Homo sapiens: one gene and its partners. The protein of the gene in region 4 interacts with the protein of the main gene of each other region in a pairwise test. Each region holds a gene or a part of one and is shown on either strand. Other genes may lie near its edges. The genes, in order: TIMMDC1, MTERF2, VAMP4 and STX6.

Region 1 (7,026 bases), on a different chromosome or scaffold from region 4:
GACCATTCAAATATCCTCTCTTCCAGCTACTTGAAAATATACAATAAATTATTAACTATAGTCATCCTACAGTGCCACAGAACACTAGAATTTATGCCTCCGATCTAGTTATAATTTTGTATTCATTAATCAATCCCTTAAATCTCCTCTTCTTATGCCTTTCCCTGTCCCCTCCTCAGCCTCCAGTAACCATAATTCTACTCTTTACTTCTATGAGCCCATTTTTTAGCTCCCACATGAGCAACAGAACATGCAGTATTTATCTTTCTGTGTATGACTTATTTTACATAACAATGTCCTCCAGGCTCATCCATGTTCCCACAAATGACAGGATTACATTCTTTATTATGGCTGAATAGTATTCTATGGTGGATATATACCACATTTTCTTTATCCATCCATCTGTTGATGGACACTGACGTTGATTCCATACCTTGGCTATTAATAGTGCTACAATAAGCATGGGGGCGCAGATAACTCTTTGATATGCTGGTTTCTTTTCCTTTGGATAAATACCTAGTAGGGAAGATTGCTGGATCTTACAGTAGTTCTATTTTTAGTTTTCTGAGGAACTTCCATACTGTTTCTATAAAGGCTGTAATAATTTGCATTCCTACCAAAAGTATATGAGTTCCCTTTTCTTTCTACATCCTTGCCAAAATTTATTTTTTGTCTTTCTGATAATAGACATTCTAATTGGGATAAATATCACTCCAATTTCCCAAACTGTCCCCAAACCACATTTCATTGTGGTTTTGATTTGCATTTCCCTGATTAGTTATGTTGAATACTTTTTCATATACTTGTTAGCACTTGTAGGTATTTTTTGAGAAATACAAGTTTCCCCCCAAGCTCCCCCGCCCACTTTTTTTTTTTTAAAGAGACAGGGACTCACTTTGTTGCCCAGGCTGGAGTGCAGTAGCACAATCATGGCTCACTGCTGCCTTGAATTACTGGGCTCAAGGGATCCTTCAGCCTCAGTCTCCCAAGTAACTGGGGCTATAGGCATGCACTACTGTGCCTAATTTTCTTTTGTCTCATGCTGTCACTCAGGCTGGAGTGCAGTGGCACCATCTTGGTTCATTGCAACCTCCACCTCCCAGGCTCAAACAATCCTCCTGCCTCAGCCTCCCACGCAGTTGGGATTACAGGTGTGCACCATGACAATTTTTGTATTTTTAGTAGAAATGGGGTTTCACCATGTCGGTCAGGCTGGTCTCGAACTCCTGACCTCAAGTGATCCGCCTGCCTCGGCCTCCCAAAGTCCTGGAATTACAAGTGTGAGCCACCGTGCCTGGCCTCCAATGCCCTTTATTTCTTTTTCTTGCCTAACTGCTCTGGCTAGGATTTCTAATACTATGTTGAACAAGACTGGTAAGAGTGGGCATTCCTATTTCATTCCAGTTCTTTGAGGGAAAAGCTTTTCACTTTTCCCTGTTCAGTATGATATTAGCTGTGAGTTTGACATATATGGCCTTTACTGTACTGAGAAATAGTCCTTCTACCCCTAACTTTTTGGGAGGTGTTACCATGAAGGGGTGTTCAATTTTACCAAATGCTTTTTCTCATTTACTGAGATGATCATATGGTTTTTTTCCTTCCTTCTGTTTATATGATGTAACACATTTATTGATTTGTGTATGCTGCACCATCCTTGCATCCCTAGGATAAATCCCACTTGTTCATGATGTATAATCTTTTTGATGTACTCTTGGATTTGGTTTGCTGGTATTTTGTTAAGGATTGTTTTGTAGAATACATTGGCCTGTAGGTTTTGTTGTTGTTGTTGTTTAATGAGCCTTTGTCTGTTTGTTGTTGTATAAGGGTAATGCTAGCCTTGTAGAATGAGTTTGGAAGAACTCTCTCATCTTCAATATTTCGGAACAGTTTGAGAATTGGTCTTAATTCTTCTTTAACTGTTTGGCAGAATTTAGCAATGAAGCCATGTGGTCCTGGACATTTCTTTGTTGGGAGACTTTTTATTACCAGTTCAATCTTGTTACTTGTTATTGGTCTGTTCAAGTTTTCTATTACTTCTTGGCTCAATCTCGATAGATTATAGGGGCTCAGGAATGTATCCATTTCCTGTAGCTTTTCCAATTTCTTGGCATACAGTTGTTTCATAATAATCTCTAATGATATGACTATGTCCGTGGTATCAGTTGTAATGTCTCCTTTTTTGTTTTTTACCTTAATTGGGTCTTTTTTCTAACTTGTGGTTTCTTGATTTTGTTTTCAAGAAACCAACTTTTCATTTAGTTCTTCTTTTGTGTTTTTTTGTTTGTTTTTAAGTCTCTATTTCACTTAGCTCTGCTCTGATCTTTTTATTTATTTCCTTCTGATTTTGGGTTTAGTTTGTTCTTGCTTTTCGAGTTCCCTGAGGTGCAGTGTTAGGTTGTTTATTTGAAACATTTCTACTTTTTGATGGAGGCATTTATTGCTATAAACTTCCCTGTTAGTGATGCTTTTGCTGTATCCCATAGGTTTTGGTATGTTGTGTTTCTGTTTTCATTTGTTTCAAGAAATTTTTAAATTTCCTTCTTAATTTTTTCATTGACCTATTGGTTGTTCCAGAGCATATTATTTAATTTCTGTGTATTTGCACAGTTTCCAAAGTCCTTCCTGTTACTGATTTCTAGTTTTATTCTGCTGTGGTCTGAAAAAATATTTGATGTTATTTTGATCTTTAAAAATTTGTTGAGACTTGTTTTGTAGCCTAACATATGGTTTATCCTGAAGAACACTTCAAGATAAGAAAAACGTGTATTTTGCAGCTGTTGGATGTGATGTTCTGTAAATGTCTGCTAGATCCATTTGATCTACAGTACAGTTTAAGTCTGATATTTCTTTGTTGATTTTCTGTCTAGATGATCTGTCCAGTGCTGGGAGTGTGGTGTTGAAGTCCCCAGCTATTATTACATTAGGGTTTATCTCTCCCTTTAGCTCTAATATTATTTGTTTAGATATATATATATATGGATGCTCTGGTGTTGGGTGCATATATATTTACAGTTGTTATTTCCTCTTGCTGAATTGATCTCTTTACCATTATATAATGACCTTGTCTCTTTTTATAGTTTTTTATTTAAAGCCTATTTTATCTAGCATAAGTATAGCTATTCCTGCTCATTTATGGTTTCCATTTGCATGAACATCCTTTTCTATCCCTTTACTTTCAGCCTATCTGTATCTTTACAGGTGAAGTGAGTTTCTTGTAGTCAGTATATATAGTTGAGTCTTTAAACTTTTTTTTATTCATTCAGCCACTCTAAATCTTTAATTGGGGAATTTAAAGTGTTTATATTCAACATTGTTATTGATAGGTGTGGATTTACTCCTGTCATTTTGTTAACTGTTTCCTGGTTGTTTTGTATAATCTTTGTTCCCCTTTCTTCCCCTCTTATTTTCATGGTTGGTAGATTTTTGTAATTATAAGGTTTGATTCCTTTCTGTATCTGCTCTACCAGTGAGTTTTATTCTTTCACGTTTCCATAATGGTAGTTACCGTGCTTTTGCATTCAGATGTAGGAGTTCTTTAAGCATTTCTTATAAGGCAGTCTAGTGGTGATAAATTCCCTCAGTGTTTGCCTGTCTTGAGAAGACTATTTCTCCTTCATTTTGGAAAAATAGCTTTGCTAGGTATAATACTCTTGGCAGGAGTTTTTTGGGTTTTGTTTGTCTGTTTGTTTGTTTTTTCCTTTTAGCACTTGGAATGTATCATCCCATTCTCTCCTGACTTGTAAGGTTTCTGCTGGCAAATCTGCTGTTAAACTGATGGGGGGAGGTAAATGGTGGCAGTGGACCCTGGATGAGCCAGTCTTCAGGGGGTGCACGTGGCAGCTCAGCCACTAGAATTGGCAGGGTTGCCAGTGGTGGAAGACTCCAGGTGAATGACCTTAGAATGGCCATAGCCAGCCATTCTTAAGCTTTTCCATCTCAAAATCACTGATCTCTAAATCACTGACAAACTTCTGCAGTTTTTAATGTTTCATTTACTTTTTTAATTTTTTTTTTTTTTTGAGATGAAGTATTGCTCTGTGGCCCAGGCTGGAGTGCAGTGGCGCAATCTCAGCTCACTGCAACCTCAATGCTTTTCTTCTCATATAGCACTTAAGTCCTTGGATGATGGACCTACAGCTCTTAAGAATTTCCGTGTGTGTGTCTGTGTGTGTGTGGTTAGCAGAAATGGAGGTTTCAAATGAAAACACTGGAAAAAAATGATTTCTCATCTATCCAATTATAATACCAAAACAGCAACAGCAGCAGCAGCCAATGCTGTCTTAGGTACCCAGGAAGGTGAACTAGTGAAAATCATTTGTACTCAGGAGCACTAGATGGCAGCCTGTTATATTCATCTTACATATTGAATCTGTGCAAAGTCAGCTATCAGTCTGATTGCCCTATCCCACAAATTGCATCCCAGGAGATGATTAGATGCAATAGGTGAAAGTTTTCATGTTCCTCAGTGGCATTCAGTGCATGAACAACCATTGTCCACCTAATTCCTCTGCATCTACAGCAAGAAATAGAATTTTTGTGGAGACTTAACATGCTGTGTCTTACTTACATATGTATGCAAAAAAAAAAAAAAAAGTCACTTTTTTTCTTTTTTGAGACCGAGTCTTGCTCTGTGGCCCAGGCTGGAGCACAATCACGGCTCACTGTAACCTCCGCTACCCAGGTTCAAGTGATTCTCCTGCCTCAGCCTCCTTGAGTAGCTGGGACTACAGGCACGTGCCACCATGCCCAGCTAATTTTTGTACTTTTAGTAGAAATGGGGTTTTGCCATGTTGGCCAGGCTGGTCTCGAACTCCTGACCTCAGGTGATCCACCTGTCTTGGCCTCCCAAAGTGCTGGGATTACAGGCATGAGCCACCCTGCTAGGCTAAGGATGTCACTTTTTAAGTAAGCCAGGTAAAGCTCACTCCTTGGTGAATATTCCCTTTAGGTAATTTCCTATGCAGTTAAGAACACAGGAAAAGAAAAAACATGCAAGCAAGATTTACACCACTTTTAACTTAAAAAGATATCCAAAGAAAGATCTTCATTAAATTAAAACTAAAATCAATCTCTTTCATTTTTCCATTCTCCTTAAATAGATTAAAAGACAATGTACAGTATGAGTTGAAGGACTTGGTAAAAATAAACTCTTCTTTGAATTGAGTGGCAGTTTAGAGTACATAAGTTTAAAAGAGCACCACTATATAAGGCCTGGGGCAAGAGAGCCAAGATTCCCTGGGCTCAACATGTTCCTTACCACTCTTCCAGTTTTAGCTCATGGAGTGCCTTTCGATCCTTCTGTTTTCTTTCCTGAACAGTCTCACCAGAGTACTTCTGAAATGCCATCAGCAGGCCTCCTACAGGAGTGCTGAGAAGAAAGGAGAGGGAAAGCTTAGGAAAAACGAGTCATTAGACCTTGCAACATGTGAGATTCTCTGCTAAGGTGTGAGCAACACCAGAGCCACTTGTTCACTATTAGGTACAGGAACATTTGAGAATTAAAGTGTCCTTGTCAAATAAAGAAAAACATTGAGGTAATCTCTTCCTTGGTCTGAACAACAGACAAAAACAATCACTACAACCTCCTAAAGTTAACTGATATATAATAAAACAACAGATCTAGAAACTGGCTGTTTTTATGAGGAATGAGAAATAAATCAAAACAAAGAGGAAAAATATATATATTTATGACAAGTTCTAGTAAGTAGCCCCACACCAAAGATTTCTCAAAAATGAAATTTCTAGTTCAGAATGGCACCAGCTCCTCTAGGAGACAGGAAATGTGGAGGGCATTTCTGGTTGAGGGAGGGATGCTACTGGCTTTTGGGGGTGGGACCACCAAAATATCCTGAAGTTCAAGAGTCTGGCGTAACTGTCTCACCCACAATGCCAATAGCAACCCATTGAGAAACTGATTTAGATAATAATTATTATAGTGATGAAGAGAGTTTGGTTCTTGTGTTCTCAGACTAGAAGTATTTGACCTTCATACACCTTAAATTTCCTCCAGCTACAATTTAAGTAACCTCATACTAATAACTATTTTTGCTAAGTGGAAGCAACATAAATGTTCACTGACAGATGGTTAAAGAAAATGTAACATACACATACAATGGAGTATTATGCAGCCTTAAAAAAGAGGGCAATCCGTTCAACAGGTTACAACATAGATAAACTTCAAGGACATTATTATGCTAAGTAAATAAGCTAGTCACAAAAGGACAAATAGTGTATGATTCCACTCATATGAAGTATCTAAAGTAGTCAAAATCTTAGAAACAGAAAGTAGAAATATATTTGCTGAGGGCTGGAGGGTATGGGGAGGGGAAATTAGTTTTTAATGCATATAGTTTCATTTCTCAAGATAAAAAAGTTCTAGAGATCTCATGCACAATGTGAATATACTTAGCATTTTTGAACTATACACTTAAAATATGATTAAGATGGTGAATGTTATGCTATGTGTTTATTACCACAATAAAAAATATTTTTGTTGCTAACTCCTACAACTTTTCCCTTCAAACCAAACTGGTATATTAACACTACAACAAAAGCAATGGCAGCAGTAGATTATGACATGCTGATTTTATTTAATTCAAATTTTTAAAAAAATCATTAAATCTATAGCATTACCTTCTCCTTCAAAGGAGGTAGACAAAGGGGTGAACAGGTGGAGGACGAAGGTAGCACTCTTCTAGTCAGACAAATACCAACTAATAAAAACAGAAGAACTGACAGAACTAGCTTATCAACATTTACAACCACCTTTCTAGTAACCAACCGATTACAGCATGGGTCGTCAATGGATCATTAAAAACACATGATGAAAAGATAGCTGGAGAGCAGAATATTCAGTTTCACCCTCCAGATTACTAATTAATCACATTGGGAAAAAGATATCTTTGCAATGGAGACACTGAACAGATAACACCTTAACCAAGTGTGGTAGGCAGAATTCTAAAGTGGTCCCCCCAAATATCCTGCCTAATCCCTCAACTGTGAATATATTATGCCCATGATTATATT
Region 2 (7,999 bases), on a different chromosome or scaffold from region 4:
TTTTATGTCAACCTAATTAGACTATAAGTATCTTGAAGATAAGGTCAATAAACACTCATCACATTTTTGTCATTGAATTATTTGCAATCAAGCTTTACCTAGTTTTTTTTTCCCCCTTAAATCACAGAAAACATTCAGGAGGAATACTGTTGCAGCTGAAATTGGTGGGGAGTTCAATACTTTTCAATTAAGTTATTTAAAAATATTCTTCATTGATGGAAAGCAGTTACATATTGAAATATGTTGTTTCTAATGACATTTCTGTGGTTTTTAACTTTTTAATGAATTTCACAGAGGACAATTGGTAATTTGTATATAAAGAACTTGGCAAGAGAATTTGCTTAATGTAAATATAAACAGTCACAATTAGTATAGACCCATCGATATATTTTTGATAATTTTTCATGTATGGTAAAGTTAAAATGACAAATTGATATTCTGATATAAAACTCAAAGTTTTGAAGTCAGTGGGAAAAAAGGAGGTTTTTAGACTTTCTTAAAAGACGTTAAAATTTTAGGACAGAATTTTCTTGATGTTGTTTGATCTAACTTTGCACTCTTTGATAATAATGTTTTAGATAATGTGCGTAATCCAAATTGGTATTGTAGCCTCTGTTAACACAGACAGTATATGTTTTAAACTTTGATGTAAACCTTTTTAGACCCAAACTTGTGGAAGTATCATGTGTTAAGTTCTCTGTCTCTGTTTCTTTGTTCATTTATTACTAAAATGAACTTGTTATTAAAGTATATGCAAATATGAAATCTTGTGTACGTGTTTTTTTTTCTTTTTTGGTAAGGGAGAGAGTATTGCTGTATGATATATGATTACAAATTACAAAGAGATTCTATAAACCACATCATCATTTTGAAGGAACAGCTACCATATGTTTAGTTAAACAGTGTTTTTCAAAATTATATGCAAGAAAGAGGTAAAACTAAAGGGACTTTTTTCAAGTAATGGCATTTGTAACCATAAATCAGGCAGTATGGGCTAGCAATCAATAGAGTGAGCTCTCGAGTCAAATGCCCATTTCTGCCATTCATTAGCTTTGAGGTCTTGAGCAAGTTTAACCTTCTATGTCTTCTTTCTTCTTATCTATAAAATAGGGATGAGGGTAGTATCTGCTTTATAGTTCAGTTCCATGTAAAATACTTATGAGCTGGCATGTGATAGGGTACTCAGTGTTAGCCACAGGGCTGCCATGCTGTGTCACCCCCTGTCGTGTACAGTGCACAGTCTGCATAGCTGTATGCCACAGCTCTGGTTAGCTGCCATTATTTTTATTAGTATTGTTATTATCCCTTTAGTGTTCTCTAGTAGGTTAGTTCTTGCCATTCTGAATTATAACCAGTGGCTTTTCATTTTCCCATCATTAATCATGATAGATATTTAGTATGATAATTTAAAGATAACTGAAGATAAAAGTTGAGTAAAAATACAGAAACGATAACATTTTAGATGATATGCATTTTTAAAAATATCCTGGATAGTGAATTAACAATGATCAATAAATTCCATTACTGAGGCTAGGTGTGGTGGCTCACGCCTATAATCCCAGCACTTTTGGAGGCTGAGGTGGGAGGATCACTGAAGCCCAGGAGGTCAAGGCTGCAGTGAGCTATGATTGTGCCACTGTACTCCAGCCTGGGTGGACAGATCAAGACCTCATCTGAGCTGGGTGTGGTGGCTCATTGCCTGTAATCCCAGCACTTTGTGGGGTTGAGGCGGGAGGATCACTTAAAGCCAGGAGTTTGAGACCAGCCCTGGAGACTTAGCAAGACCCCATCTCTATTTTTAAAAAATCAATATAAAAATAAAAAAAAAGTAAAGAAGACCAGGCAGGGTGGCTCATGCCTATAATTCTAGCACTTTGGGAAACTGAAGTGAAGCAGGAGAATCACTTGAGGCATGAACCCAGGAGGCGGAGTTTGCAGTGAGCCGAGATCACATCACTGCACTCCAGCCTGGGCGACAGAGTGAGACTCTGTCTCAAAAAAAAAAAAATGATTAGCCTGAACAACATCTTGGGACCCCATCTCTACAAAAGGAAACAACAAAAATATTAGCCAGGTGTGGTGGTGTGCACTATGGTCCCAGCTACTTGGGAGGCTGAGGTGGGAGGATGGCTTGATCTAGGGGATTTGAGGCTGCAGTGAGCTATGATTGCACCACTGCACTCCAACCTGGATGACAGGGTGAGACCTTGTCTCGGGGATGGGGCGGCAGGTGGGAAATCCATTACCGAGAAAAAGAATAAGAAAAAATCCTGTGCTTTATCGTTCTTTTTTCACCACTGTTAAAGTGAAGTAATATTTTAATTGTTTTTTATGGTAAGTGTACCTCACATCCTACTCTTTGGACCTGGTTGTACAGTGCAGAGTTGAGAAATTCATAGACCTGAGATTTACCATCACCGTACAAGAGGTCATAGATTTCAGTTTTCTTGTTGTTATTTTGAGACAGAGTCTCACTCTGTCGCCCAGGCTGGAGTGCAGTGGCACGATCTCGGCTCACTGCGGCATCTGCCTCCTGGGTTCAAGCGATTCTCCTGCCTCAGCCTCCCGAGTAGTTGGGACTACAGGCGCGTGCCATCACGCCCGGCTAATTTTTTGTATTTTTTAGTAGAGACAGGGTTTCACCGTTAGCCAGAATGGTCGCGATCTCCTGACCTCATGATCCGCTGGCCTCGGCCTCCCAAAGTGCTGGGATTACAGGCATGAGCCACCGCGCACGGCCAAAGATTCAGTTTTAATGTGAATAAATAAACAGTAAAAGAACACTATCTCAGCATAAGCACTGGTATGCTATTTATAAATGTAAGAGGATTTTTTTTTTATTAGGGAGTTTTTTGGAAAGCTTTTTCAGTTTGGTGTAAATAGTGGTCAAAATGAATCACTGAAAGGGAAAGAAAAGGCATCAGTCATCATGCTCTACTTGAGCAGATACATGATGTTCGAATCAGTGTTCTCCCCTTAACTAGAAATCCTACTTGTGGTTAAGGGATTTAAGACATTTTACTCATTCAGCAAATACTTCTTCAATTCTTATTGCCAAAAACTGTACTGACAACTTGGGAAAATTATATTGAGAGAACCAGGGTTTTGAATGAACTGTACAAAGTCCTTATGTTTTTCATATTTGCTTAAAATAAATAAGTAAATTTGAGATATAAAAGTCTATCAGTATTTTTAATGCATCTCTTACATACTAGAAATTTCAGGATCTTCTCACAATTCAAATGTGTTTGTAATTTTCTTGTACATAATATGCATAATTGTAAGTTCTTTTCCCCTTTTCTTCATTCAAGGTTTTTTTTCTGATTATATGGTCCTAGAAATGCACTGTTTAAATATTTGGGCTGGAAAAAACTTTGAGTAGCATTTATTTAATACAGTTGGCATAGCTGATTTGTCAGTTTCAAGTTTTGATTACAATGCACGGGGTCATATGTATTGTAATTCCTTGCACAATTACGTGGAGCCCTAATACAAGCTTCCAGCACCCTGGTGCACATTTCTGCTCCCTCCCTCCTGACCAGTGATGGCAGCTTGCAGTTCTAAGTCCTGAGTTTACATTCCTTAACTTCCTTTTCTGTATCCTAATTTCCTTTTCCTAAGTGCAAATGACACACTTTGGTTAGTCTGGACCCCAAATCATTTTATTTCAGGAAAAAGTGTGCAATAAATCTATGCATAATAGAGTTTTTATATTCGGATAACTCAGGAGTTGCTGGACAAACACCCCCCAGCTGTACACATGAGTTGCTCAGATCATTCTAGAATATCCTAGAGATCAGAGGTGGGTGATCTTGAGGAGCCAGGATTCTTGCTGCTACTCAGTGGAGTTAAATGCACGTGTGAGCTCCTCTCAATATAGCCTGTTGAGCCTAAACTGCATAGTGAGACTAGACTCAAAGATTTAGTTAACATTTCCTGAGTTCCTACTGTGTGCCCAGCATTGTTGACAGAAAAAATAATCAGTAGCCTCAAGGAATTCACTCCACAGGGTGCGAGGGCAGTCTGTATGCCAGTGCCACCGACGGCAGAACTGTGCACAGTGTGCTACGAACACCTGACAGCAGACACCTCCAGCTGGGAAAACCAGTTTTCCTGACTCCAACTCCACACAAACAGAATCACCAGGCCCAGCTCAGGGCACCCTGTCCTCGATAACACTTAACTAGGTGTGATTAGTCACGTTATTAGTTGTTGATATCTCTGCCCTCCACTAGAATGTAAGCTCCATAAGGACAGGGAATGTGTTTTATTCCCCCTCTATTTTCTCATTGCTGTTTCAATATGCTTGGCACTTAGCAGGCCTGCCATAAATACTTGTTTTTTGGATGGATAAATGTGAAAATAAATGAGAGAGACATTCAGCCTGGCTTTAAGGAGAAATTAACGTGTTTAGTGTATGAGGTTGGGCATCACCGGTAATAATTAGAATGGAAACCACTTGGCAGTTTATCAGAAAAGGGGAGTATTTAGGTGAAGGTGGCAAGGAGGGAGAGAAAGGAGAATGGCTTTTAAAGACAGTCGCTAACTGCTGGGGTAGGGTGGGGGCGGGGAAGAGTTCAGATGTGTTTCAAAGAACTTTGGGGGTTTTTTAAACATTTCTTTTGTAAGTTGGTTCTTTACCTAACTGAATTATTTTGGGAACAGTGATTGGCTCTATCTTAAAGATATAGCGGTTTCTGTTACTTCTTTTTTTTCTTATATTTTCTAAGCGTCAAAGCTACTGGAACTCCGCTTCCTAAAATGCTGGGAAGGAAAGGGTGTGAAAATGCCAGATGCCCCCGCCAGCACAGGCTGGGCTGCCTGGAAAGCCGATTCCCACTCCGACTCGCCCTCGTGGTGCGGGGAGGGACGCGTAGTTGTGTCCCGCGCTCTGACTGGCTGCGTTGGGACGCGGGGGCGTGTCTTGGGGGGGCGGGGGTTGGCGGTCATCTCCCGAGCCCTGATTGGCCATGGGCGAAGGGACTGATGGCCTGGTTGGCGCTGCTGAGAACTGTCGGGAGCTTCTTGAGACCGAGGACCGAAATCCCGGCTCCAGGCCTCGGGGACTGCGGACTGTGGGGAGGCTGGCCGGAGAGAGAGGGAAGGACGGGGCCTGGCCCCCGGGACTCCCTGTGCCTTGCTTGGAGCTGACGCCGACGGGTGAGTCGCCCCCTTCCTCTGCTCCTGGGCGTGTTCCTCACCAGCGGCGCCGCAGCGGTCAGGGCCCGCAAAACCCCACGCCTCGCCAGACGCTCAGCTCAGCCTGCCGGGTTTCTCTGGAAAAGCGGAGGCCCCACAGTGAATGTGCGGCCTTTTGATCGGTCCTGGAGATCTTCCGTGGACCCTCGTTTTTCCTTGCTTATAAACGTTGGTCAATTTGAAACTGGCAGCAGGGCATATGTGTTACGAAAGAAGAACTTTATTGAAACCAGTGGTGGTGTAGAGAAGACCATACTAACCATAACTGTGTATTACAGAAGTGAATTTCACTCCCCAAAAATGCTTAAGAAACAAGCATCCTAGAACAGCCCACATTGTGATTTAACAAACATTTACCAAAAGCATTGCTATATGTGGGGGCACAGGGCTAAGAGCAGGCAGGACTCTGGAGCCAACCTGTGGGGTTTGAGTCCAAATTCTGCCGGTTTTTTGTTTTTTGTTTTTTTTTTTAGCTGAGTAACCTTGGGCAAGTTCCTTTACCTGCGTCTGTTTCCTCATTTTAAAATGAGTTGTTGTGATGATTTAATGATTTAGTATATGTGAAGAGTTTTCTGCATATTCTAAGTGATTTATGGTATTAACTCGTTTGATCTTTGCAGTCACCCAGGAGATAGTATCACCATTTTCCTGATGCCAAACTGAGGCTCAGAGAGGTGAAGTAACTTCTTCAAGTCACAACACAACTGTTGTCCAGGAATCAGGCAGTCTGGCTCTGCTAACCCAGTTTTACCCACTGCATTAATGTACCGCATCCACTTGTTCACTCAGTTTCACCTGACAAATACTAATTTTGTCTCTCTGTGGAACAAGTTCTTTGCTGGGTGCAGGGAATAAAGCAGAACACCGTTCAGTTCCTGCCTTCCCAACGCTTGTAAATCTAGTGCAGGTCATTCATGGCCGGGCTGCAGGGTGTCCATGAATCCTGCTAAAATCATTTGCGAAATGTTGTGAGCGTGGGTCTTTTCTTCTGGAAAGAGAGTCTGTGACTCTCAGGTTCTGAGTTGATCTGTGATCCAAACAGAGGTGTGAAGAAGTGTTGTTTTAGCAGATCTGTGCCTAGTATGCCTGATACACAGCTTGAACTTCAAACAAACAGCAACAAAATTCCTACTGGTTGGAAGAATGAAGAACTTGTAAGAGCATAATAAGTGCTGCAGTAGCGTCCGGAGCAGGGTGCTGTGGAAGAGCACACAGAAGGCCACCTGCCCAGGAATGCCTCCTAGAGGCAGTGAAGGCAGCTGGGTGAAGGATAGGGAAGCAGTTCATTGGAACACTGTGGTGACCAGTCTGTCCATGTAGTGTTGAGACAGAAACAACACGTGAACAGCTGCAGCTGTTGTACCACTTGTGCGCAAGTGTAAAAGTCCATGGTGCCATGAAATCATGTAATGGGGACAGGAGGCTTCATGTATTCGTGAAGGTTAGAAAAGTTTCCTTGAGAAAGTGACACTTAGGCCTAAAAGTTGGAGCATTTTGGGCATGGAATCTGGCCCACAGTCTTCAAAGACCACATGGTAGAAACCAGTAGAGCACCAGGGACTGACAGGAAGCAAATGCAGCTGGTGCAGGAGAGGGAAATGGGAATTAGGGTGGTGGCAGAGCCCAAAGAGGCCTTGTAGGCCATGGTAAGGCATTTCTATGTTTTATTTTACTTTGTCTTTATCCTAAAATGCCATTGGCAAGTTTATTGCAGGGAACTGACAAGATCACATTTTGAGAAGAAGTTGGAAAGAATCCCAAGTGGATGAACTGAATATCTGGATGAGGACAAGATCTGTGGGGAGAGACTGTAAGGTAAGAAGAAGAGAGGTCTAGAACCAAGCCTTGAAGGTGAGCTTGTATGGGAGACAGATAGAGGGTGGCGAGAAGTATAGAAAGGGAGAAGAATCAAAAAAAGTCGAGTGTCCAGGAAGTCAAATGAGAGAATATTTCAAGGAGAAAGTGGTCAACTCTGCTAAAAGCTGCAGAAGTCAAAAGAGATAAGGAAGGCTGGGTGTGGTGGCTCATGGCTTGTATTAGTCCTTTTTCATGCTGCTGATAAAGACATAGCCAAGACTGGGCAATTTACAAAAGCAAGAGGTTTAATGGACTTACAGTGCCACGTGGTTGGGGAGACCTCACAATCATGGCGGAAGGTGAAAGGCACATCTCACATCGTGGCAGACAAGAAAAGAGTGAGAGCCAAGCGAAAGGGGTTTCCCCTTATAAAACCATCAGATCTCATGAGACTTATTCACTGTCATGAGAACAGTATGGGGGAAACCACCCCTATGATTTAATTATCTCCCACTGGGTTCCTCCCACAACACAAGGGAATTATGGGAGCTACAATTCAAGATGAGATTTGGGTGGGGACACAGCCAAACCACATCACGCCTGTAATCGACACTTTGGGATGCCAAGGTGGGCAGATCGCTTGAGCTCAGGAGTTCAAGAGCAGCCTGGAAATGTGGTGAAACCCCTTCTCTACAAAAAAAAGAGATAAGAATGAAAACTACTCATTGGCTGTAACCACATGAAAGTTATCTTTATCGCAAGCTATATAAGTAGAAGAGGAAATGGAGAGAAAGAAGGATCTGCAAGAATTAGCTGAGGTGAAGAGAAAGATAGGGTTTGGGCAGGGAAAAGAAGAGCAGTGGAGAGAGAGAGGGTTTGGGCAAGGACAGGAAGAGCAGTGGAGTGATGGCTGGAGCATCAGAGGAGGATACACCTGAAGGAGCAAACACTTGAGAAAGGGCTTGAGAGTTCTCAGGCCAGAGAGGCTGAGCTCAGCACAGGA
Region 3 (7,026 bases), 9.3 Mb from region 4:
AAGACACATCACTGCAGCGATTCCAAGGATATGTCAGGAAATGGGGATTAAGACCAAATGAGTATATTTTGTAAATCACGATATCACACCAGTACTTACCAAACTTACCCCTTTTCATGGAGTACCAATGGGACATTATAGTTTGCAGAATATTTTTGCATGTATTATCCAATTTGACCGTCCCAACTCTGCAGAAGCCTGAAAATCAGTATTTTACACCTGAGGAAACTGAATCATTGCTTAAGCAACCAACTAAAAGTGAGAGAAATAGGCATGTTCTCCTGTCTTCTGACTCCAACTTTAAATTGTAAAGCATTTAATGTCTCAGTGAGACGTCCTCCCTCTACTCTCTGCTCTTTCATTTTATAAAAATCTTAAATCACTCATATCCTACACATGTTCTCTTAGGGCAATTACATCCATTTTCTCATAATTTTAACTATTTCTTAGGTGTTGAGGTCTAGCATGGAGGCCCCAGTCACTGGAGTGGAACAAGTGAGAGGGCAGGAATTGAAGTCAGAAAAATGAGGGAGTCCCTGTCATACAGGGTTTCATGTACACTGTTTTAAGTACATTAGCTTATGCCCCAAAGTCTCAAATCTGATGAAATTTATTTTCTCTTTAAGGTGGTGACTATCCTGTTGAGAAGCAAAAGATACTTTGCAAGTAAAAAATATGCCTCCCAAGTTTAAGCGCCACCTCAATGATGATGATGTCACAGGTTCTGTGAAAAGTGAAAGGGTAAGTTCGGAATCTTAAGCTTTAAAAACAAAAGATTCAAAATATGTTTTCATTCCCTTTGTGAATAATAGAAGAAAAACCATCCGGGCGTGGTTGCTCATGCCTGCAATCGCCGCACTTGGGACGCTGAAGCAGAATAGCTTGAGCCCAGAAGTTCAAGACTGTCTTGGACAACCCAGGGAGACCCTGTCTCTATAAATAATTTTTAAAAAATTAATGGGGCATGGTAGCACATGCCTATGGTTCCAGCTATTCAAGAGGCTAAGGCAGGAGGATCACCTGAGCCTGGGAGATGAAGGCTGTGGTGAACTGTGATCTGCACTCCAGCCTGAGCAACAGAGCAAGACCCTGTCTCAAAAATTAATTAACTAATAATAATAACAACAGAAAAATCAAAAGCTTATGACTATATTCTAATCCTAATTGTTTTCTTCATAGCAAATGTATTTAAAAACATGTTACTTAGATTGGTGACAACTGAATTCTACTTCCATTATTGATCAAATCATTATTCTCATAGCTTCTTTCTAGTTTTTGAAAGGGAGTTTTATACAAATACACAATATCTTATTCAGAACTTTGAATGTATTTGGAATTTTTCAGATTTTAGAAAGTTAAGAACATATTATGTAACAGCATTTTTGGGGCCTGGACCAGTGCCTCCAAAAATATTAATATTTCTCAGTGAAGTCTATATTTAGTTATATCTAACTAACTATGTAAATAAAGTGTGTAAATAAACTAGCTAACATCAGTTCAGGTCAAATTTTCCTCCAAAACTTTTTGATTTTCAGAAGCTTTTAGATTTTGGAATTGCAAATAAAGGTCCCCAGACCTGTAATTATCTTATGTTCCAGAGTATCTTTTATATAATGCTTCAATTTCTAGTTTATTCCAGAACATTCTATGCAAATATATATAAATCTAGAAATTATGCCGCATTTAAAAGACAACATTTTATATGAATGTTGTAGGCAGATTACTTTTAGAATAAGTACTCAATACATATTTATTGGGGGAAATAATTCACGTTCTTATTTTTTTAATGCACCATTCTGAAGCCCTCCTTCCTTTCCTTCTTGTCTTGATTCATTCAACAAATATGTATTGACCACCTCCTATGTGCTAGGCACTGGGCTAAAAATTGGAAGACATAGTCTGTGCCCTTGCAAAGCTTTTAGTCTGCTTTGTTTTACATGCTCTTTTTGGACAACCTCAGAACTTCATATTATCCACTCTGTCCACCATCTTATGACTTTTAGTCATAAGTTTCTTTTAGTACAACACAGGAAACATTTTCTTCCCCTTATTCTAACCCTTTGTACAGCTTTTGCGGTTTTGTGTGTTTCTGATGGTTTGTTTTTATTTTTTGAGACCAGGGTCTCGCTCTGTCATTGAGGCTGAAGTGCAGTGGTGCAATCACAGCTCACTGCAGCCTCCACCTTTTGGGCCCAAGCTATCCTCCCACCCCAGCCTCCTGAGTAGCAAAGACTACAGGTGCATGATATCATGCCCAGCTAGTTTTTGTTTTTCTCGTAAAGATGGGGTTTTGCCGTGTTGCCCAGGCTGGTCTCAAATTCCTGAGCTCAAGTAATCCACCTGCCTTGGCCTCCCAAAGTGCTGGGATTACAGACATTTGACACTGCACTCGGCCTGTTTTGTTTTGTTTTGTTTTGTTTTGTTTTGTTTTGTTTTGTTTTTTAATGGGGAAATAGAATCCACCAATAGATTAATTGCTAGCAAGCTTTTACTAATAAACTTTAAGGAGTCACCAATGATTTCCATGTTGCCAAATCCAGTTACTCCTTCTTTGCCATAATTTCAACTGCTTACTAGCATTTGGTGCAGTTTCAACCATTTTGGTCACCTATCTTTTCCTCCATGCCATGGTGAAACTCTTAGTGTCTGCTTGAGCTAGTTCCCCATGCAAGGAATTGAGAAATGCCTTGAAATATACCAAGTCTGGGTGAACCCGGAAGGCTCTGGCCGAGAGAAGGCAGAGGATGATCAGGGATTGAGAAATCACTCAGGGATAATCCAGGGTCTCTTTCTTTAATGTAATATCTTTCAAGATAAACCTCCAAGAAAAAGTGATTCAGAAAATTTGATATACCTGTGCTGGAATTCCATACACTGAAGATTTACTATCAAAAGCATGTCTTGGCCAGGCGTGGTGGCTCGCGCCTGTAATCCCAGCACTTTGGGAGGCCGAGGCGGGCAGATCACTTGAGGTCAGGAATTCAAGACCAGTCTGGCCAACATAGTGAAACCCCATCTCTAGCAGAAGTACAAAAATTAGCCAGGTGCGGTGGTGCACACCTGTAATCCCAGCTACCTGGGAGGCTGAGGCAGGAGAATTGCTTGAATCTGGGAGGCAGAGGTTGCAGTGAGCCGAGATTGTGCCATTGCACTCCAGCTTGGGTGACAGAGTGAAATTCCATCTCAGAAAGAAAAAAAAAGCATGTCTTTACAAAGCAGAAGGTTTGGCGAAATACTAAACCCATTCAGAGAATAAATGTCAATTTGTTAAAGTAAATGATACCAATTGTGAACCTATAAAGGAACCCAGTGTAAAACAACACAGACTTGATATGCATCCAGTAAAAGCTGACTGAAAGCTCCTGATGAATATTCAGTGATCAGCGTGCACAAAGCATGCTGAAATATTTTTTAAATCATCGGTTAGAAGAATCTGAGCCTCTTTCCTATTGCCCCAAGGAAATCTTTAGTCACTTACCCAGAGATGCTTGCAAAGCATTAATATCCTGGAAGATGATCAATAAATGCTGACAGTTGATTGACTGATATCTGAGATATGTCAGGTAAATACCTCAGTCCTGGACAGAGAGCCCCTAAGTCACATCTGCCTTTGTGTAAGATGAAGACTGAAGTATGGAAATGTATGTAGTAAAATCACCTCTCGGAACTTGTTTGTAATTCATACAATCTATGTCAATTTTGAAAAATGTATGTAAAGCAGAGAAGGTTGTAGCCAAATTCAATGTATAGTATGCAAGAGTATATTATTTAATAATTTTTAATTGATGCAAATCCCATTAATTTTATAGTTTTATTTTTACATGATTTTAAACTGAAACTATTTATATTTCCTAAGTTCCCCTGTGTTTCTTTCTCACAATCACTGCTGAACGTAAATTTGTTGTTCACTTAATGGAATCACTGTTAAGGACACAGTCACTTGAATATGATTGCTTTTTAAAAATCAAGTCCAGGCGTGATATACTAGGATCACAGTTTCATGGCATGTTGGTCATAATCCTGAGAAAATAGTGACAAAATTATTATTTGTAGATATTAAATACCAGTTTAATAATATGTGTGGAAATCAGATTAAATAGTACATAAAGCCCACCCTAATAACAAGGGCAGGAAAAATTACTTCAAGAAAAACAATAGTAAACCTTAAATTAAAAATAATACAAATAAATAAGCTTTATGAATACATTTTTAAATTTAAAATGTATTGTCTCAATAAATTCCACTGCTGAGACTGTAATTGTATCACTTTCTCCTTATATTCTTCATTGATTATTAGTATATTAGACACCAGAACTGAATAAAATTGACTGTTTCAAGAGAACTCCTTTTTGATGTTTATTATATTATGAAGTTTGATAACTGATTGGTTAGAATAATATATAAATTACTTTTAAAATCTTTTAAAAGTTTTGTTCCTCTTTCCTATTATACTTTTTTGGTAATAGCTTTATTGAGATAAAAGTCACGTACCATACAATTCACCCACTTAAAGTGTACAATTCAGTGAGTTTTATTATATTCACAGAGTTGTGCAACAATCACCACAATCAATTTTAGGATATTTTCATTAGCCCAAAAAGAAATGCTGTGCCCTTTTGCAGTCATCTCCCATTTTCTTTATCCCCTCAGCCTCTAAGCAACTGCACTCCTATAGATTTGTCTATTCTGGACGTTTTCTGTAAATGGAATCATATAACATATAGCCTTTTGTGACTGGCTTCTTTGACTTAGCATAATGTTTTTAAGATTCCTCAACGTTATAGTGCATATCAGTGCTTCATTTTTTTTTTTTTTTTTTTTTGAGACGGAGTCTCCCTCTGTTGCCCAGGCTGGAGTCCAATGGTGCGATCTCGGCTCACTGCAACCTCCACCTCCTGGGTTCAAGTGATTTTCGTGCCTCAGCCTCCCAAGTAGCTGGGATTACAGGCGTACACCACCACGCCCAGCTAATTTTTGTATTTTTAGTAGAGATGGGGTTCCACCATGTTGGCCAGGCTAGTCTCGAACTCCTGACCTCAGGTGATTCACCCACCTCGGCCTCCCAAAGTGCTGGGAGATCTTCATTCCTTTTTATTGCTAATAATATTCCCTTATATTGATATAACACATTTGGTTTGCCCATTTATCAGTTCATAGATGTTTGGGTTTTTTTCTACTTTTGGCTATTTTAAATACTACTGCTATGAGCATTAGCATACCAGTTTTTGTTTGAGCATGTTTTTATTTCTCTTTGGTGTATACCTAAAGGTAGAATTGCTGAGTATTGTAGTAACTCTCTGTTCAGCCTTCTGAAGAACTGCCCAGCTGTTTTCCAAAGTGGTTGTACAATTTTTACATTCTCACCGGCAATGTATGATGATTCTAATTTCTCCACATCCTCACCAACACTTAATATTATCTGCCTAGTGGGTATGAAATATTATCTCATTGTGTCCTATTATTCTTTTTTGACACTGTATCCCTAGCACTTGTGTTTATTCAATTAATATATGAAAAAGCATTGGTTTTCATGTGTGTTTCTCAGTGTACAATTATAGTAAACATATCTTTAGTATCATTATCCTCTAAACCAAATAAATTATTACTATTACTATTATCATTATTATTTTGAGACAGGGTCTGGCTTTGTCACCCAGGCTGGAATGCAGTGGCACGATCAGGGTTCTGCAGCCTCCTCCTGGGCTCAAGCAATCCCCCCAAGTAGCCTTCAGAGTAGCTGGTATTACAGGCATACACCACCACGCCTAATTTTTTTTTTTTTTTTTTTTTTTTTTGTAGAGATGGGGTTTCACCGTATTGCCCAGGCTGGTTTCGAACTCCGGGGCTCAAGTGATCCTCCCTCCTCATCTTCCCAAAGTGCCAGGGTTACAGGCGTGAGCCACCATGCCCGGCCATAAACCAAATACATTATATTATAAATGTAATGCTTGTCTGTTACTTGTTAGCTAGAATATTACTCAAGAAATATTTATTTAAAAAATGACCTAATGCATTTCCTTGAATATTAATTGGTTTTGAACATTTCATGTGGTCATTGGCCATTTCTTCTATTGGGAATTATCTATTTCTATTCTTTGTTTTTCTATAATGTCTCTTTTTCTTACTAGTTTGTCAAAGCTTTTTATATAATACAGACATCAGGTCTTTTGTCTTAAAGGATACTGCAGATGTTTTTTCCCAGTCTGTTGCTTGTTTTTTAACCTTGTTTTTGATGTCTTATGTTCAAGTTTTAAATTTTTATATAATCAAATATGTTAATCTTTTTCTTTCAGACTTCTGGAGTTGTGTGTTGTTTAGGAATAACTTACCCATCTTAAGAGTTAACTATTTATATATTTTCAATCTTTGTGATTTCATAACAAAATATGTCTAAGGTCCCATTTTCCTTTAAGTACTGCTGTGGCCATACTCTTCAGATTTTGACCTGTGATCTTCCCAGTGTCTTTCATTTCAAAATAGTCTAATCACCTTTATTTACATTTAACATAAAAGTTAATGAGAAGGATGTTTTTTGTTTTTTGTGAGGTTTTTTGCTACAGGGTCTCCTTTTGTCACCCAGGTTGGAGTGCAGTGGCATGATCATAGCTCACTCTAACCTCAAATTCCTGGGCTTAAAAGATCCTCCCATATCAGCCTGCTGAATAGCTAGGACTACAGGCATGAGCCACCATGCCTGGCTAATTAAATTTTTTTTTTTTTTTTTTTTTTCCCATAGAGACACGGTCTTGCTATGTTGCCAGTGCTGGTCTTGAACTCCTGGGCTCAAGTGATCCCCCCACTTTGGCCTCCCAAAGTGCTGGGATTACAGGTGTGAGCCACTGCACCCAGCTGAGAAGAGTATTTTAAAACTTCCTTTTTCCATCGCATTATGGTCAGAGAATATGACTTGTGTAATTTCTATTTTTTGGAATTTATTAAATGTCCTTTGTGGCTTACCCATAAAGGAAAATAAAATAAAATTTGCTGTCTAGTTTCAAAGTTCTAGATTTTTTTGTGTGTTTGGCT
Region 4 (7,026 bases):
CGCGCCCGGCCTACATACTCTTTAATTGTTCCAAACATACATAAAAGGTTTTTGATAACTGAATTGCTATCAGTTACCAAGTTTACATTAATTAAAATTTAATTTCTGTCACACTAGCCACATTTCCAGTCAGTAGTTGTATGTGGCTTCCGTGTTGGACAGCACAGTGTAAGCTTTTCTAGAGTCCTAGACAGGTGTACCCTACTTAATATTATTCAGTGGCTGCTGCTGGCCTGCAGAATAAAGTGCCAACACTTCCTGACCTCACTGATCTAGCCTCTGCTCTCCCTTAGCCTTAGTACTCCAGCAGTGCCAGACTCAATACAGTGACTGTGATTGCTGTACTGGATGCTCTTACTCTACATGCACCCACACTGCCTGATTCACCCACGCAGCTTTCTGGAGTCAGTGTAAGCATCTCCCTTGCCTCCAGGAAGTGCTTCCTTTGTCACCCCTAATTATTGGACCTCTTCCTCTGTCTCTCTTTCATTATTAGACTATGAGCTCTGAGGTTTGGGACTGTTTTTTTTTTTTTTTTCCTCTGTATTTCCAGCCTACACCTTGAATATATAGTGTAAATGTTGAACACATACTCTTTGTTGATGGTGGTGATTGTGATGGAATGGTGCCTCATGGGTGAGAACACCACCAGCCAAAGGCCTAAGTTGGGCAATGTGTGTTAGAAATGATCTGGAAGAGCAGCCCAGGTGGAGTAGACAGTTTAGGGAAGTAGTAACAGCTCACATTTAAAGGATGCATCTCCAGTGCCAGGCATACATGTAAAGTGCTAAGTAAGCACTTTATATGAATTTTCACTCTGTAAAAACACCCATATGATGAATACTAGCCACATTTTAGAGATGAGAAGCTGAGGAAGTGTTAGAGGGGTTAACTTACTTGCCTAGGGTCACACAGCTAATAAGTGGTGTACTCAGGCTTCAAATTAGAACAACCTGATTTCACACTACTGTCAATACTTCCCAGTGCAGGTAAAATAGGGTCAAGTTATGTTGGCCTAAGGAGAATCTCATCTTGAGGCCATTACAGATTTTTAAAGCAAGGAAATGACATGAAATTAGGATTTTAGGAATATTGATTTGGTGGTAGTGTTGGATGCATCAGTGTGAGGAAAGATGAAAAAGGAGACCAGTTAGAAAGCTGTTGTAACTTATACATGCAGTGGTTAGTGCTTGGAAGTTTGAAGCTCCTTTTGGGAGGTTTTGACATTGTCAATGTCCTGTTCGGAACAGAATCCCACAACAGGGATTGCTCTTTTATCCTTATGAAGTAGGTATTATTATTGTCATCATTTCACAAAAAGGAAAATGAAACTTAGTAAAAAACTTCAACTTTATAAGCTTGTACGTAGAAGGGCCAGGATTTATATATTTATTACAAATATATATTATATATATAATATGGTCATTTTAAAAATTGGGATTATACGTTATATATGGTTTTATCACTTTTTCTTTTCTTTTTTTTTTTTTTTTTTTTTTTTTTGGGACAGAGTCTTACTCTGTCGCCCAGGCTGGAGTGCAATGGCGATGGCGTGATCTCAGCTCACTGCAACCTCTACCTCTTGGGTTCAAGCGATTCTCCTGCCACACCCTCCCAAGTAGCTGGGACTACCAATGTGCGCCACTATGCCTGGCTAATTTTGTATTTTTAGTAGAGATGGCATTTCACCCTGTTAGCCAGGCTGGTCTTGAACTTTGACCTCAGGTGATCCACACACCTTGGCTTCCCAAAGTGTTGGGATTATAGGCATGAGCCACCGCGCCTGGCCTGTTTTATGACGTTTTCATCTGTATTTCTTTATATCCTTCAGACTTCTGGGTGGCAGCTTTTAATGACTGCATTGTATTTTGTCATATAAATGTTCATCCTGGAAGATACATTATATTTATGATCACACTACAATTAATGTGGTGATAAGCCTACTTGTCATAGGTCTGTATTGCTGCTTCTGATTTTCATAGCCTGTATTCCTGGAGCATAATTGCTAATTCAGAGGGCAGGCACAGCAAAGCGTTTGATGCATACTACCACGTTGTCCTCCAGAATATTCCCCCTTGCCCCTCAAAGTGTTTGAGGGACCCAATTCCCTTGATTCCAGTACTGGGATTTTCATTAAAAAAATCTTTACTAATCTCCGGGTGAAAATATCATATTTAAATCTTGTAGTCTTCATCTTTGTATTCAGTAAGGATGTACTCAGTGTTTGTTGAGTGAACCCATTTTGATTGTTTAGTTCTGTAGTTTTTTTCCTCCCTTGTTGGCAAGTTTTTAGAATTAGCCTCCTTTTAGAATTTGCACCTTCTAATCAGACAAACCCTGAAGAAAACCATGTAACTGAGCATGTGGAGACAGAGTATAAGTGAGCCACTCCTGTGGATAAAAGGTACAAATACCATGGCTCTTTGCTATTTTATTGCTGTGGAGGTTTTGTGTGTCTGATGAGGATAGTTTTTTGTTTGTTTGTTTGTTTGTTTTTTTGAGACGGAGTCTCACTCTGTTGCCCAGGCTGGAGTGCAGTGGCGCGATCTCGGCTCACTGCAAGCTCCGCCTCCCGGGTTCACGCCATTCTCCTGCCTCAGCCTCCTGAGTAGCTGGGACTACAGGTGCCCGCCACCACGCCCAGCTAATTTTTTTTTTTTTGTATTTTCAGTAGATACGGGGTTTCACTGTGTTAGCCAGGATGGTCTCGATCTCCTGACCTCGTGATCCTCCCACCTCGGCCTCCCAAAGTGCTGGGATTACAGGCATGAGCCACTGCGCCCAGCCGAGGATGGTTTTTTTGTTTGTTTGTTTGTTTTTGAGACAGAGTCTCATTCTGTCACCCAGGCTGGAGTGCAGTGGCGCGTCTTGGCTCACTGCAACCTCCGCCTCCCGGGTTCAAGCACTTCTCCCTGCCTCTGCCTCCCGAGTAGCCCGCCATCACGCCCGGATAGTTTTTGTATTTTTAGTAGAGACAGGGTTTCACTGTGTTTACCAGGCTGGTCTTGAACTCCTGACCTCAGGTGATCTGCCCGCCTCGGCCTCCCAAAGTGCTTGGATTACAGGCATGAGCCACCGCACCCAGCATGATAACAGTTTTATTTCCAGGTTTTTGGCTGTGGATTGATGTTGAAATAATGACATAAGTAAGCTGATGAGTAAGATGGTATATGTTATGTTGTGTTCTTTAACCTTCTCTGTCTGCATATCTAGCTTTATTAACACTAGATTATGAGCTCCTCGAGGGCATCACGCATTCTATTCACTGTTGAAAAACTGTATTGGTATAGTCACTGTGAAAAAAATAACCCTTGTTTGTTAATTTTGGCCTAGTAAAATTGAATGTAAATCAAATTTAATACTTTCTAAAAAGCAGAATCCAGTGTTTCGTTGTAAGAACAAATTTGCAAGCCTTTATTATAAATTTGAGTGTTTAATATTATTTAGCTCCTTAGTTTGGAGAACACTATGCAGATAAGTGAAAGATATATTGTGTAAGATTTTGCAGTAGAGTTGAGATGCTGTGGAGATTGAAAAAAAAAGAAAGACCCATGCTGGGAATGCTGGTCAATCTGGGCCTTAAAGGAAGTGTCTGCTGAGGTGTAAGGCTCTTCTAGGCTGGGGAAACAACTGAGTGGAAGTCAAGAACCAGGAATGAGAAAGATAAAGATGGGAAGAAGACCTGCCAACTGAAACAGAATTTGTTCAGTGAGAAACCATGCTTGATACTAAAGTCAGCCAGTTTGGGTTAGGAGGAGGAGTGGGAGAGGGTTTGAATACCTGCCTGAGGAGTTTAAATTTAATCTGATTTCTATCATAAATTCTAAATCAGGAGGCAGTTTTTAAACTAGCAGTTACTATTCACTTGCTTATAGTCAGCTTTTAAGGGTTCAAACCCAGATCTTCTGATTCTACAAAGAAAACAGATTTGTGGGCCAGGTGCGATGGCTCATGCCTGTAATCCCAGCACTTTGGGAGGCCAAGGCAGGCGAATCATGAGGTCAGGAATTCGAGACCAGCCTGGCCAACATGGTGAAACCCCATCTCTACCAAAGATACAAAAAATTAGCTGGGTGTGGTGGTGGGCACCTGTAGTCCCAGCTACTTGGGAGGCTGAGGCAGGAGAATTGCTTGAACCCTCTTTTGCAGTGAGCTGAGATCACGCCACTGCACTCCAGCCCTGGTGACAGTGCAAAACTCCCTCTCAAAAAAAAAAAAAAAGATTTGTGTGGAAGTTTTGGAAAAATGCAATTAAATAAGTCTTGGTAATAGAAAGTGTCTTATAATCAGGGTTGGAAGAACTTGAGGCAAGCAGCCAATATGTCTGAGCCCCAAGGTCTCTTATTTATGTTTAAGGAGCACAAACTAGATTATCTTGAAAGTTCTTTCCAGATCTGAAAATTCAGTGATTGGATTTAAGTAGAGGTTGTGCAAGGTAAGGAGGAGGAGGAGTCAAAAATGACTCTTGTCTAGACAAGTGTTGAAACTTGGAAAATGGTGGCACTATTGGCTAAAATGAGGAAGCTAGAAAGGGAAGCAGATTTTTCTATTTTGTTTGTTTTGAATACATTATGTTTTGTAGGGAGGATATGATTAATTTGGTTTTAGGCAAATGGAATGATCCTATAGGCAGCTAAAAATATAGGAATTAAGCCTGGCTGAGTGGTTAGGGTTGGAAGTATAGTGGGGGAGTCATCAGCTTAAGAGGGGTGCTTTGAACTTGTGAATGCTGATGAGCACATAGAGGCCACAAAGAGTACTGAGAAACATTGGGATCCAGTGGAGGAAGAGGAAGGAGAAAACTGGTAGAAAACTAGAACAGCACAATGTCACAGAGACAGAGAAAGTGAGAGTTTCAAGCAAATAGATATAATGGGCCATAGTGTCAAGTGCACCAAAAATGAGGACAAGTTAAATTCACTCGTGACTTTGACCTGCAGTGTCATTGGTGGAGTTGTGGAAGCAGCAGTAAGTTAGGGTCAAAAATTGTATATAATTGTAGGTAACTGAGTAAAAATGATGTTTCATTTTCACAAGAGTAATTACAAAATATGTCACAGTGTGGTTGAATTTGGAAATGGCAATAAAGTCAAGTAAAGGGTGTGCATGTGTTTCCTTTCAAATACAAACGATGTGAATGTAGAAGTCAAGCAATAAAAAGAGTTCCTCTCTTTCTGGAGAGATGAGTGGTGAAACCAGGTTTGTGGGGTATGGGGCAGGAACCAGTTGGAGAAGAGTGAGGAGTGGGAGTCTGATGTGTTGCAGAGGCTCACTCAACCTGAATTTTTCATGTTTCATTACTAGAATGGAAACTTTCAGCCTTGACTAGCCTCTTTTACTGTATTGATGAAATGGGGATCCCTCTGTAAAGACTTGCAGAGTAGGTGCTGTCCCAGATAAAAGAGTTGTGGCAGATTGTATTTTTTCCATTGATGGCTGCACCAATAAATGTTCTGTCCTGTGTTGCTTTTCTTTCTTTTTTTTTCTTTTTTTTTTTTGAGATGGAGTCTTGCTCTGTCTCCCAAGCTGGAGTGCAGTGGTGCAATCTCGGCTTACTGCAACCTTCGCCTCCTGGGTTCAAGCGATTCTTCTGCCTCAGCCTTCTGAGTAGCTGGGTTTACAGGTGCATGCCACCACACCCGGCTAATTTTTGTATTTTTAGTAGAGACGGTTTGACTGTATTGGCCAGGCTGGTCTCGAACTCCTGACCTGGTGATCCACCCACCTCGGCTTCCCAAAGTGCTGGGATTACAGGCGTGAGCCACCACGCCCGGCTGTTTGTTTTTATTAAATTGTGAAGCTGGCATTCTTTTATCAAACTGGAGTTTGTATTCCCTTCCTTTGAACCTGGGCAGACCTTTATAAACTGCTTTGACTAGCAGATTGAAGCAGAAGTGACGCTGCTTGACTCCTGAAGCTTAAGTCATAAAAGACAACCACTATACCTTCCATCTGCATCTTTCATCTTGGAACACAAGTATAGGCTACCCTGAGCTAACATGTAACAAGTCCAGTTACATTGAAGCCACTCTGTTAGAGCATGTGTGCAGACTGTGGAGAGATAGAGAGATGTGATGCCTTTACAGCCCCAGCCTGTTTAATATTTTCAGCTGAGGTCCCAGACATTGTGGAACAGGGACAAGTCAGCTCTGCTGTGTCTGATTCCTGATCTACAGACTCCATGACATGATAAATGGTTGTTTTACACCACTAAATTTTGGGGTCATTGTTAAACAACCACGATAACTAGAACATGCCAATTCAGAGTCTGCCAGCATGGGCAAAGAAGAAAGGATAAATCAAAACGATGAAGGGGGAGGCCAAGGCAGGAGGATCACTTGAGGCCAGGAGTTTGAGATCAGCCTGGGCAACAGCGAGACCCTGTTTCTACAATAAATAAAAAAAATTAGCTTGGCGTGGTAGTGTGCACCTGTAGTCCTAGCAACTTGGGAGGCTGAGACGGAAGAATCCTTTGAACCCAGGAATTCGAGATTACAGTGAGCTGTGATTGCACCACTGCACTCCAGCCTGGTTGACAGTGAGACCCTGTCTCAACCACAACAGGAAAAAGGATGATGGGGGTTGTGGCTACACTTACGCAATTTGTTGGTACAACTGAATGACAAATACTGGGGAACAAAGCTCCCTAATGGCTGAGATACTCTTTCTTCTCATTTTACTTGGCAAACTTGGTTAGATGCAAGTAAGAAAACTTTGTGATTTTTTTTTTTTTTGGACTGTATTTGGACTGAATGTATTACTTGTGGCCCCAGAGGCTAGTTTGGTGATGTACCATATTGGGAGGTTGTATGGAAGAGGCTCAACTATCTGACGAGGGATCAATGTTGGGCTAACTTCAAAAATAAATGAGGTTGGTTTGCCAGAATCAACTTTTTATTTATGAAGAATGGAAGAATTGGCTGGGCGCGGTGGCTCATGCCTGTAATACCAATACTTTGGGAGGTCAATGTGGGTGGATCACCTGAAGTCAGGAGTTTGAGACCAGCCTGACCAACATGGAGAAAC

What was found.
Region 1: the proteins of STX6 (region 4) and TIMMDC1 interact in binary tests that used the Homo sapiens proteins (3 or more experiments, as listed by UniProt).
Region 2: the proteins of STX6 (region 4) and MTERF2 interact in binary tests that used the Homo sapiens proteins (3 or more experiments, as listed by UniProt).
Region 3: the proteins of STX6 (region 4) and VAMP4 interact in binary tests that used the Homo sapiens proteins (3 or more experiments, as listed by UniProt).

Annotation. Positions count from the first base shown.
Region 1 is NC_000003.12:119,515,547-119,522,572, reverse strand, and holds part of TIMMDC1 (complex I assembly factor TIMMDC1, mitochondrial isoform 1 precursor), read right to left. Parts: intron 5,369-7,026; coding exon 5,258-5,368; intron 1-5,257.
Region 2 is NC_000012.12:106,984,130-106,992,128, reverse strand, and holds the start of MTERF2 (transcription termination factor 2, mitochondrial precursor), read left to right. Parts: upstream 1-4,982; 5' UTR 4,983-5,160; intron 5,161-5,819; exon of another isoform or gene 5,820-6,903; 5' UTR 6,904-7,014; intron 7,015-7,999. Other genes in the region: CRY1 (cryptochrome-1), read left to right, coding at 128-191. UniProt on the Homo sapiens protein: Binds mitochondrial DNA and plays a role in the regulation of transcription of mitochondrial mRNA and rRNA species.
Region 3 is NC_000001.11:171,732,064-171,739,089, reverse strand, and holds part of VAMP4 (vesicle-associated membrane protein 4), read left to right. Parts: intron 1-626; 5' UTR 627-675; coding exon 676-741; intron 742-7,026. UniProt on the Homo sapiens protein: Involved in the pathway that functions to remove an inhibitor (probably synaptotagmin-4) of calcium-triggered exocytosis during the maturation of secretory granules.
Region 4 is NC_000001.11:181,012,866-181,019,891, reverse strand, and holds part of STX6 (syntaxin-6), read left to right. Parts: intron 1-7,026. UniProt on the Homo sapiens protein: SNARE promoting movement of transport vesicles to target membranes. Targets endosomes to the trans-Golgi network, and may therefore function in retrograde trafficking.